Linked DNA regions of Homo sapiens. The protein of the gene in region 2 purifies or fractionates together with the protein of the main gene of each other region. This does not show direct contact. Each region holds a gene or a part of one and is shown on either strand. Other genes may lie near its edges.

The links.
Region 1: the proteins of NUFIP1 (region 2) and STX1B purify together in Homo sapiens (affinity purification with mass spectrometry; 3 studies listed by BioGRID and IntAct, with this or other methods). This does not show direct contact.
Region 3: the proteins of NUFIP1 (region 2) and SLC12A5 purify together in Homo sapiens (affinity purification with mass spectrometry; 3 studies listed by BioGRID and IntAct, with this or other methods). This does not show direct contact.

Annotation. Positions count from the first base shown.
Region 1 is NC_000016.10:31,008,389-31,012,138, reverse strand, and holds the start of STX1B (syntaxin-1B), read left to right. Parts: upstream 1-1,500; 5' UTR 1,501-1,742; coding exon 1,743-1,772; intron 1,773-3,750. UniProt on the Homo sapiens protein: Potentially involved in docking of synaptic vesicles at presynaptic active zones. May mediate Ca(2+)-regulation of exocytosis acrosomal reaction in sperm.
Region 2 is NC_000013.11:44,961,830-44,965,479, forward strand, and holds part of NUFIP1 (FMR1-interacting protein NUFIP1), read right to left. Parts: intron 1-3,650. UniProt on the Homo sapiens protein: Binds RNA.
Region 3 is NC_000020.11:46,049,631-46,053,280, forward strand, and holds part of SLC12A5 (solute carrier family 12 member 5), read left to right. Parts: coding exon 1-160; intron 161-2,044; coding exon 2,045-2,240; intron 2,241-3,326; coding exon 3,327-3,496; intron 3,497-3,650. UniProt on the Homo sapiens protein: Mediates electroneutral potassium-chloride cotransport in mature neurons and is required for neuronal Cl(-) homeostasis.

The DNA.
Region 1 (3,750 bases), on a different chromosome or scaffold from region 2:
ACGGAGGTGCAGAAAGATGCAGGTAAAGAAGGAAGAGAATGCCAGGCATGGTGGCCCAGGCCTGTAATCTCAGCACTTTGGGAGGCTGAGGCAGGAGGATCGCTTGACCCTAGGAGTTCAAAACCAGCCTGGACAACATAGTGAGACCCTGTCTCTACAAAAAATAAAATTAGCCAGGTGTGGTGGCGCGTGCCTGTAGTCCCAGCTACTCAGGAGGCTGAGGTGGGAGGATCACTTGAGCCTGGGACGTTGAGGCTGCAGTGAGCCGAGATTGCACCACTGTACTCTAGCCTGGGCAACAGAATGAGACCCTAACTCAAAAAAAAAAAAAAAGAGAGAATGGACGGAGCCCAGGGAACCCTGAGGTTGAAGGGCTGTGGGAAAAAAGGTAAGGACCTGGAAAGAGGCTGGGAGACAACACTCACAGATCAGGTTGGGGGGTAGGTGGGCGGAGCACCACAGACAGGAGGGTTTCAGGAAGAGGGGCTCATCAGGGTCACATGCTGCTGAGAGGTCAGGGATGGTAAGGCCCGACTGGCGGTGTGGGATGAGGGTTTATCAGACACAGATTTGGCACCAAGGAGGTCACTGGGTACCTGGCAAGAGAATGCCGGGTGCGGTGGCCCAGGCATGGAATCCCAGCACTTTGGGAGGCTGAGGCAGGAGGATCGATTGAGAGTCAAGACCTGTCCCATTGGGGACCGGCGCCCCATTGCAGGGGGTGGGAGGAGCTGGTGTGGTGTAAGGATGGGGAGAGGAGAGGTGGGCATCAGAACAGGAGGTCACTCAGACCCTCAGGGGCACCTGATTTCCCCTCCCACTAAGGACAAATTTCATGTTCAACAGTCAGAGCCATCTGCAGATGGGCCAAGAGGTCCTGGGAGGTAGTGAGCACCCTGTCCCTGGAGGCAGACAAGCAGAGCTCCGAGACCCACCGCGGCGGGAGAGGCCCAGGCTGTGCAACACAAGCCCCGTGTCCTTCTCAGCAAGCACCTGGCTGGTTCCCTGCATCGTAAAAACCACACAGAGGGTCGGTCTTTCTATTTATAGTGTCCAAAGAGCCTCCTGCAAGAACACACATGGGCTCGCACCCAGAGGTGGTCGGCGCGCAGCCTCACGCAGACACCAGACACAAAACACAGCCGCGATCTGTGTCTCCTGGAAAGGGATCCACATCCTGGCTCCCAGGTTATTCCCTGAATTCATTCCGTCACCCCCTCTTTCCGCCGGGCCACCCCACCCCCCGGGCCACCCTAGCATCTCCGCTTGGCTCTCCGCATCTCTCCCTGCTCCTCGGGCTCTGCCCACCCCCACCCGCCTCCAGGCCTCTCCCGCCCCCTCCTCGGGTGTCCCCCAAGCCCGTGACTACAACCCCCAGGCGCCCCCGGCCCGGGTGCTGCGCATGCCCCCTGCTCCTTGCGCGCTCCCGCTCCCCCCGCCCTCGCTTCCTCCTCACCTCCCTCCGCCCCCCTCCCCCGCGCTCGGCTCCCGCATCCCTCCATCCTACCCTGTGCCGCAGCCGCATCGCCACCGCAGCCCGGCAGAGCCGAGCCCGGCCCAGGCCCCTGCCCCTGCCCGGCCCTCGGCCAGTCGCCCCCGGCCCCGCCCCCGCCCGCAGGCCCCCCGCAGCGGCCGCGGCGCCCCCCGGCGCCCCCAGACCCCGGCCTCCGGCACAGAGGCGGGAGACCCGGAGCAGCAGCAGAGGCAGGAGGACTAGGAGGAGGAGGAGGAGCCGTCGCAGGATGAAGGATCGGACTCAAGAGCTGCGGAGTGTGAGCTTGGGGGTGGGGAGAATGGGGGGGCGGGACCCCAATATTGGGGGAGCGCGTGGGGATGGAGTGGGGGAGGTGCTGGGACGTGGGGGCGAAGGATGAGATCGGAGGTTGGTAGCCGGAGCACCCCAGTATCTTCAGGCGCCTGATGTCTCTCCAGTGAACCTGCATTTTGGGGACAGTGCCTGGAAGGGGTTGGAGGCCATGAAGACACAAGGGGGCAGGAGAGGTCTCAGGGGCCTCGAACACCCCGCATTCCCAGGAGGGCCCCGGGGTCTGGTCTGGGGATGGGAGAGAGTGGATATCAGGAGAAACCGGAGGAGACTGTCATCCCCTGGGCAGGTTTGCCAAAGAGAAGCATGGGGGCGGTGACTGGGCCAGGCTGAGAGTCTAGCAGGACCCAGATTCAGGGGATGCTACGGGGAAGGACACAGGTTGGGACTGAGATGCCAGCACCTGGCAGTGAATGAAGTGTGTGTGTGTGTGCACACGCGTGTGTCACTCCCTATAGGGAGGGGGCATCTCTCCGAGACAGGGAGGGAAGAGGTGGCCTCCGGAGAGAGCCAGAGGGCCAGGGCCTGAGACAGGGTGACCCAGAGGTGGGAGATGGGGATGCAGAGGAGAGGGCCATGGAACACGGGCCGTGCTCTGCTTGGGGGAACTGGGGCACCCCGGGCAGTCAAGGGCTGATGCAGGCCCCAGGTCTGCAGGCCTGAAGAGGCCCGGCTCCAAGAGTCTGGCCAGGCAGTCCCTGGTTTTGGGGGGACAGGGGAAGGACTGCAGTGGAGGCTGCTACCTGGAGGAACTGGGGAGTGGGGTTCGATGAGAATGGTTTCAGGGGCAGGGAGGACGCTGGGGTATTTGGAGAAATGACCTGGGGCCCGAGGAGGCAGCACTGACAGTCCGCACTGTGCTGGGCTGGTGGTGTTATGTTAATAAGGGTACCGGCCCCGGCTGAGCTGCCCAATGCACTGAGCCTTTACAGGGAACTGGTGGGTTGTTACCCCAGGGGTTATTACCCCACTTGACAGATGAGGAAACTGAGATTCAGGCGTGGGAAGGGACTTGTCCAAGGTCACCAAGCAAGTGGGTGGGGGGCAGACTGCAATCTGGGTTTCCTGTCTGCTAGGTTGACACAGGTCTCTGCTTTTCTGGCCTTTGAAACAGAAGTTTCAGCACTGGGGGTGAAGAGCTGTCCCCTGGATTTGGGGGTGGGGACCCAGGTTACAGACAGACGAGAAGAAGGTGTTTGGAGGCAAGTGACCGCTGTCTCTGGGGACAGACAGGTTGCCAAATGGGAAGCAAGGAGGAGCTGGTGGCTGAGGGAGGGAATTTTAAAGGTTTCTTTATTACATTTTTACTGAATATACACTCAGGCATGAGGAAAGTGACAGTAATAATAAACATTGTTTGAAGTGTTTTATGCATATTCACTCATTTTGATCCTCACAGCAATCCTATGAGACTGGTTATCTCATTTCATAGATATATAAATATCTTTTTAGATATATAGATATATGTTATCTCATTTTATAGATAAGGACACTAAGCTCAGAGAGGTTAAGTAATTAGACCAAAGTCACACAGCTGGTAAAGGCAGGATTCAAACCCAGGCAGGCCGGCTTCAGCATCGGTGCTGTCAATTCCCCTCCTCAGTTTGCAGAGCAGGCTTTCATCCGTGATGTCATTAGAGCCCCACTGACCTCCTGGCAAGTGGACGGGGAGGCTCTTTCATTTTAGAGTTGGGGAAACTGAGGCCCAGAGTGGTTGAATAACTTTCCAAAGGTCACACAGCTAGCAGGTGAGGGATCCGGACTTGAACCCAGTTCCCCTGCTACCAGGACTATTCCATGACTCCAAAACCCAGGGAAATGGAAGTGGGTTGGGATCAGGTGGTGTGGAATTGGGGTACAATTCGAGAAAGAGGGAGGGAAAAGGCTAAGCGGGGTAAGGGGGAGGCAGGGGAGGGGGAGGCCTC
Region 2 (3,650 bases):
GAATGATCATCATTAAGGTATTCACTAATAAGTAATGAGTTAAGAAGATCCTTCACTAATGACATCTATAAGACTTAATTGAGAAAGTAGTGTATCTGTTATTTGCACTCTATTTCACCTTCAAGGGAGTAGTTCTGTTATACCACGACTTGACAATCATTTGAAAAGAAAAGTTTATGTAATCAACCATCTAAAAATAGTTACAAAAGGCATAATGTAAATAAAAATGTAGATGAATATAAAATGGAGAGATTAATAAAAAAAAGATTCCATCCAAAAGAAGGCAAGAAAGGAAGAACAAATTAAAAACCCAACTATATTAGGAATTACATTAAACGTAAATGAACTAAGCACTAGTTAAAAGGCAAAGATTTTCAGTTTGGATTACTAAGAAGACAAAATTACATAATATATAAGAGATACACTTTAAATATAGAGACACAAAAAGTTTAAAAGGAATAGGTTGTTGAAAACACGATCCTTTCTCCACTGCATTATATTGCCAGATTTATCATAAGTTAGGTGATTGTTTCTCAGTGGATCTGTTTGTGGGCTCTATTCTGCTCTACTTATCTATTTATCCTTGGACAACACCACACTATCTTCATTACTCGAGCTTTCTTAGTTGCTGTTCTAGATCCTTTGTATTTTCATATGCAATCATGCACCACATAATGACATTTTGATCAACAATGGACCACATATATGACAGTAGTCCTATAAGATTATAGCAGAGCTAAATAATTCCCAGTAATGTCATAACATCATAAAGTAAAAAATTACTTTTATAAAACAATTTAGTGTAGCCTATGTGTACAATGTTTGTAATGTCTACAGTAATGTATAGCAGCCTCCTGGGCCTTCACATTCACTCACCACTCACTCGCTGACTCACCCAAGGCAACTTCCAGTTCTGCACGTTCTATTCATGGTAAGTGTCCCATTCAGGTATACCATTTTTTGCCTTTAATGGTGCATTTTAATGAAACTTTTCTATATTTAGATACACAAATACTTAGCATTGTGTTACAACTGGATACAGTAACACACGGTACAGGGCTGTAGCCTAAGAGCAACAGGCTTTACTGCACAGCCTAGGTGTGTAGTAGGCTGTATTATCTAAGTTTGTTTAAGTATACTCTATGATATTCATAACGACAAAATTTCCTAACCCGTTTCTCAGAATGTATCCCTGTCATTAAGTGACACATTGTAATTTTAAAGCTTATCAATCTCCCCCATCCCTCCTCCACCAAAAAAAACAAAACAAAAAAAAAACTTGCTGGAATTTTGACTGTAATTAATTGGATTTGGGGGAGAATTAAGATAATTATATTGTTTTCCAGTCCATGACTATTATATATTGCTCCATTTATACAGGCCTTGAATTTTTCTGAGCAATGTTTTGTAGTTCTGAGTGTAGAATCTTGCACATCTTTTGTTAGGTTTATTCCTAGGCATTTGATGCTATTCTAAGTGGTATCTTTTAAATTTTCAATTTTTAATTGTTGCTACTTTATAGAAATAGAGTTGATTTTAAAAATATTGATCTTACATGTATTTGGCAACCTTGCTAAATTCATTTATAAAAGTGGTAACACTGGACATCCTTATCTTGCTTCTAATCTTAGGGGAGGTGGGGGAGTGATCACTATTGCACCATTAAGTACGATGTGGCTACAGAGTATTGATAGATATCCTTTATTAGATTAAAGAAATTATTTTCTATTACTAGTTTGCTAATATGTCTTTTTTATGAACAGGTGGTACATTTTATCGAACTGTTTTCCTTACTCATTAAGTTAATAGCATTTTCCTCCTTCACTTTGTTAATGTGATAAATAAACATGCTCCTGGAATAAATCCCATTTAGTCATGATGTTATATCATATTTTTACATATTTTTACATATTGCCAGATTTGATTTGCTAACATTTTGTATAGGATTTTTGTCTCTCTGCTCAAGAGTTGTGTTTCAAAATTTTCACTTTACATATTTTAAAGCTATGTTCTAGACACATACAGATTTAGAATTGGTATGTCTTCTTGTTGTTGCACTGACTCTTTTAACATTACAAAATATTCCTATTTATCCCTAATAACACATCTTGCTTTAACATCTATTTGGTCTGACATTAATATTGTTATACCAGGTTACTTTTGGTTGGGGTTTGCATGGTATAACAATTAGTGCTGGATCAACTGTAATTCATATGTGAAAAAGTTTTAAAGGTCCTTAAACCCTACACTATGTACAATAATTAATTCTAGACATATACCAGAAACACAAAGCAATAAATCTTCTAAAAGAAAACATAAAGAAATAGTTTTATGATCTCCAAGTAAGCAAAAGTTTTTTTTAAGGCAGAACACACACAGCACTGACCATAAAAATAAAAGATTAATAAATCAGACTTCATGAAAATTGAAATTTTTATTTATAAAAGACACCATTAAGAACTTCTGTTTCTGGCCAAAATAAAGTAACAGGGACTGAATTTATCCTCCTACCTGAAATAACCAAAAAACTAGCCAAAATGAATAAACGATGGTCTCTATGACACAGGGCATGAAGCAACAAGAGAAGTGAGCCCTGAAAGACAGAAAATAAATGAATAGTGAACCCTGCAACTGCCCTTGCTTACAGCCTTAAAGAGTTTCCAGACTGCGGAGAAGAGGAATCCAGATGGGACCTGGTAGAATCCCTGAATTGAGGAACTGGAGTTGAGACACCAGAGAGAGCAAGACATCTAGAGCTTCAGGATGTACCTGAGAGGAAAAAACTACAGAAAGAGAGAGAACTCTAGAGATTTGCAGAGGATTTACCCTGGACTATTTAGCAGAAGACTGATTGGCATGTATTTGTCAGGAAACTATCCAAGGTTGGGGGAAAAAAACGACCCAAAAGGATCAGAGTTATCAGCACCTCATCTTCACTCCGAGTCATAACTAGGGCCTGTTTGTACCTCATATTTCACAGGGCATGGGGTAAGATACCCAGTAAGATATTACATCAGTAGTGAGTAGTTAGTTTCAGACTAAACACTGCTCTGGTTTCATCTAACAAAATCTTAAAAGCAAGATCCAGAAGGATGAAACCGTTTCTAAGTAACTCAGTTGTCTTCCCAGAAAAAAGTTCAAGAACATTTATAGAAACACAAAAATATACAGCACCTGATGTGGTTTGGTTGTGTCCCCACCCAAATCTCATCTTGAATTGTAACTCCCACAATCCCACATGTCATGGGAGGAACCAGGTGGGAGGTGATTGGGTCTTTCCTGAGCTGTTCCTGTGATACTGAGTGAATGAGTCTCATGAGATCTGATGGTTTTAAAAAGGGGAGTTTCCCTGCACAAGCTCTCCTGTCTCTGCCTGCTGCCATCCATAGAAGATGTGACTTGCCCCTCTTTGCCTTCTTCCACAATTGTGAGGCTTCCCCAGCCACGTGGAACTGTAAGTCCAGTTAAACCTCTTTCTTTTGTAAATTGCCCAGTCTCGGGTATGTCTTTATCAGCAGCGTGAAAATGGACTAATACAGCACCCAATAATGTAAAATTTCCAGTGTCAAGTATCCAATCAAAAATTACCAGGCATGGGGCCAGGTGCGGTAATCCCATCACTTTGGGAGGCCAAGGTGGGCAGATCACGA
Region 3 (3,650 bases), on a different chromosome or scaffold from region 2:
GCTGGTGCTGGTGCGTGTGGACCAAGACCAGAATGTGGTGCACCCCCAGCTGCTCTCACTGACCTCCCAGCTGAAGGCGGGGAAGGGCCTGACCATCGTGGGCTCTGTCCTTGAGGGCACCTTTCTGGAAAATCATCCACAGGCCCAGCGGGCAGAAGAGGTGAGCAGAGGCCCTGGTTGGGCTTGGGAAAAGGTCAGGACACTTAGGAAGACAGTCTCTATCCTTTTGTACTTTCCTTCCTCATCACCTTCAGGATCAAAGGAAGTGCAGGCATTTCTTTTCTTTTCCTTAGAGGAAGAGCCTAAGAGCCTAGACAGTGAGTTCTTTAGAATTCAACTCACAGCATGAAAGACCATCAGAGGCAGAAGGGCCCATTTTATGGATAAGGAAACTGAGGCTTAGACAAGTCAGGTCATATGTCTAAGGACAGAAAATGAAGATTCAAATTAGGACTCCTTGAACTCCTACTCTAGACTCCTTCCTGCCAAAGTATAAATCTTTCAAGGTGATTTCCCAGCTGTGGACTCTTGATCCCTACAGTCTGGGGTTGACAAGGTGAGTATCCACATTTGATACAGGAAGAAACTGAGACCCAGAGAGGGAAAGCTGCTTGCTGAAAGTCGGAAAGCTGCTTGCTGAAAGTCAGAAAGCTGGTGGGAAGCAACATCAGGATTTGAACTCAGGCCCCTGCTCTGTGTCACCTGCTCTTGGTTCCACCCACTAGTCCATGCTTACAGGGCAGCCTACAGAACCAATGTGGGCTGTGGTGGCCAGTGTCTGCCTTAAGCACACAAAGAGGTGATTGGATCCCAAGGGTAGTAGAGGAAGTAGGTTCTGTCTGAGGGTCAGGCCTTTCTCCCATCAGGGCTGTGGCTAGCAGTGGAGAGAGAAAAAGAGGCCCGAAGGAGCAGAGGTGAGATGGGGAGGGGCACCCCGATGGCTTGCGACAGTCGCTGCTTCTGCCTCACTGGGCTGTTCACACTGATCTGTCAGGGCCCAGAGCTGGAGGCCTTGACTGGTCAGTTCCATTCAACACGCGGTGGCTGAGAATGTGCAGTGCACCAGGCACTGGGCGAGGCACAGGGGAGATGGAGATGTTCAAGACCAAGTCCCAGCCCTCGAGGTGCTCACAGGCTGGTGGGGAAGGCAGAGCATACACAGAAGGCTCTCAGACCCACCGGATGTCGATAAATGCTGTTAGAGTTAATAACATCAGGGTCGTACAATGTGTTGAGTGTTTTCAATTCCTCAGGCAGGATACTAACTAAGCCCTATGTGCATGATGACATGTGGTTCTCCCTATTCCTAAACAAGGTAGCTTGTCCTGACCCCTTGGGTGGTTAGGTGACTCACCCAAGGTCACACAGCCAGGAGGTGGCAGAGATAGGAGTTGAACTTCTATCTGTTTGACTTAGGGGTGGTGGTTAAGAGTGTGGGGGTTGGAGTCAGACTTCCCTGACTTGAATCCTCACAGTAACATTAGCTGTGTGTCCTTAAACAAGTCTTCCTTTCTCCAAGCCTCAGTTTCCCCATCTATAAAATGGGAGTAATAAGACTATTTCCCTCATAGTACAGTTTAAATGGGAGCCCTTAAAATACTTATTATGCTACTTAGAAAGATTGTTGAAACAAATTGTCTGGCTGTGCAGAGAAGCCCAGTTTAATTCTGGTCTGGGTGGGGGTGGTATCTGAAGACGGCGACATTTGAGCTGGGCCAGACAGGGTGTCATGTACAACTTGGCAGGGGCTTGTGTCAGGGTGATGGTGGAGAGCATGTCGGGCAGGGGGGCTGTATGAGCAGTGGGAGGGTGGCAGAAAGTGTGGTCAGATCATGAAGAGCCTTGATTGATCAAGAAGGAATGGGGCACAGAGATGATGGGGAGCCATGTGCCATTCTGGAGCCAGAGACTGACGTGATCAGAGCTGAGCTTCAGGAAGATTGGGATGAAAGGAGGGGAGAGATGGGAGGGAAGGAGGCTACAATGGGCCCAGCCAGGGCCAGGGAGGCCTGAGGCTGGTCCTTGTCTTTTCCCCCTCCCCTAGTCTATCAGGCGCCTGATGGAGGCAGAGAAGGTGAAGGGCTTCTGCCAGGTGGTGATCTCCTCCAACTTGCGTGATGGCGTGTCCCATCTGATCCAGTCCGGGGGCCTCGGGGGGCTGCAGCACAACACTGTGCTTGTTGGCTGGCCCCGCAACTGGCGCCAGAAGGAAGATCATCAGACGTGGAGGAACTTCATTGGTAACGCTATTGGGGGCTGGGGACAGAAGAGGGGTGGGGCTGGGGGCTGTAGAGGGGTGGAACTGGATTTCCGCTCCTTTGGGCCTGAGGGGTTTCCCAAGCACTGCGTGCCAAGTGTGGATTCAGCATATGCAGGTGACAGCAGTCAAGGCTGGCCACGTGCCAGCCACTGTGCTGGGCGCTGGGGACTCCGCTGTGAACGAGACAGTCTTGGCTCCTGCAGCGCTCACAGGCCCTGGGAGGAACACAGTGCAGGGCAGTGGGAAGAGCTACAGCTCTGAAGTCACAGAGGCTAGGCCCACATCTCAGCTCTGGTCCTTCCTAGCTGTGTGACTGTGCACACGTGACTCACTCCCTCTGAGATCAGATTTCTTGGTAATCGTAGGTAATAGTATATATAATAACTAACGTTTCTAGAATGAGTTCTGTGTGCCAGCAAGTTAAGGCTTTCTCTGATTCTCTCATCAGTCCTAGGAGGGCTACGCATTGTTATCTCCATCTTTTTTGATGTGAAACTGAGGCACAGAGAGATTAAGAAGTTTGCTCCAGCTGGGTTCGGTGGCTCACGCCTGTAATCCCAGCACTTTGGGAAGCCAAGGCAGGTGGATCGCTTGCGCTCAGGAGTTTGAGCTGGGCAACCTGGCAAACTACAGAGTAAATGAAAAAGAAGTTTGCTCCAAGTCACAAAGTGGGGAGCCAGGTTTTGAACCAGCCCGGAGGCTACACTGTTAGCTCCAAGCTATTCTGTCTCCTTTATAGGTAGATCATGGTTACAAGGTGTTGGGAGGATTCAGTGTGGTCATACATGATGGGCTCTTAGTAATCAGAAAGGGCAGGTGGTGTTATTGCCATTTGACAGGTGGGGAAACTGAGGCCTAGAGAGGTTGATAGACGTTCCTAGATCTAAACAATAAATATATGATGGGGCCCAAGTAGATGCTGGTTTTCTGACCACTCAGCCCATGGCCAAGGCCAGTTGGAGTGGGGTGGAGTGCTGGCTGCCAGGAGCCCTTGTGGCTGCTGCTGGGTGTTGGGAGAACCAGAGTCACTGTTTCCCCCTCTGGCCCTCTCCTTGGCCTCCCTCAGAGCTGGTCCGGGAAACCACAGCTGGCCACTTAGCCCTGCTGGTCACCAAGAACGTTTCCATGTTTCCTGGGAACCCTGAGCGCTTCTCTGAGGGCAGCATCGACGTTTGGTGGATTGTGCACGATGGAGGCATGCTCATGCTGCTGCCCTTCCTGCTGCGGCACCACAAGGTGAGTTGTGTGCGTGAGTGTATGCACGTGTGAGTGTGTGTATGCATGTATGCATTTGTGTGCATATGTGCACAACTGCAGGTCAGACTCAGGGGCTCTGGCCAGGGTCAGCTTCCGTGTCCTTCCTCCCCTGTAAACTCCTGGGAAAGGGATC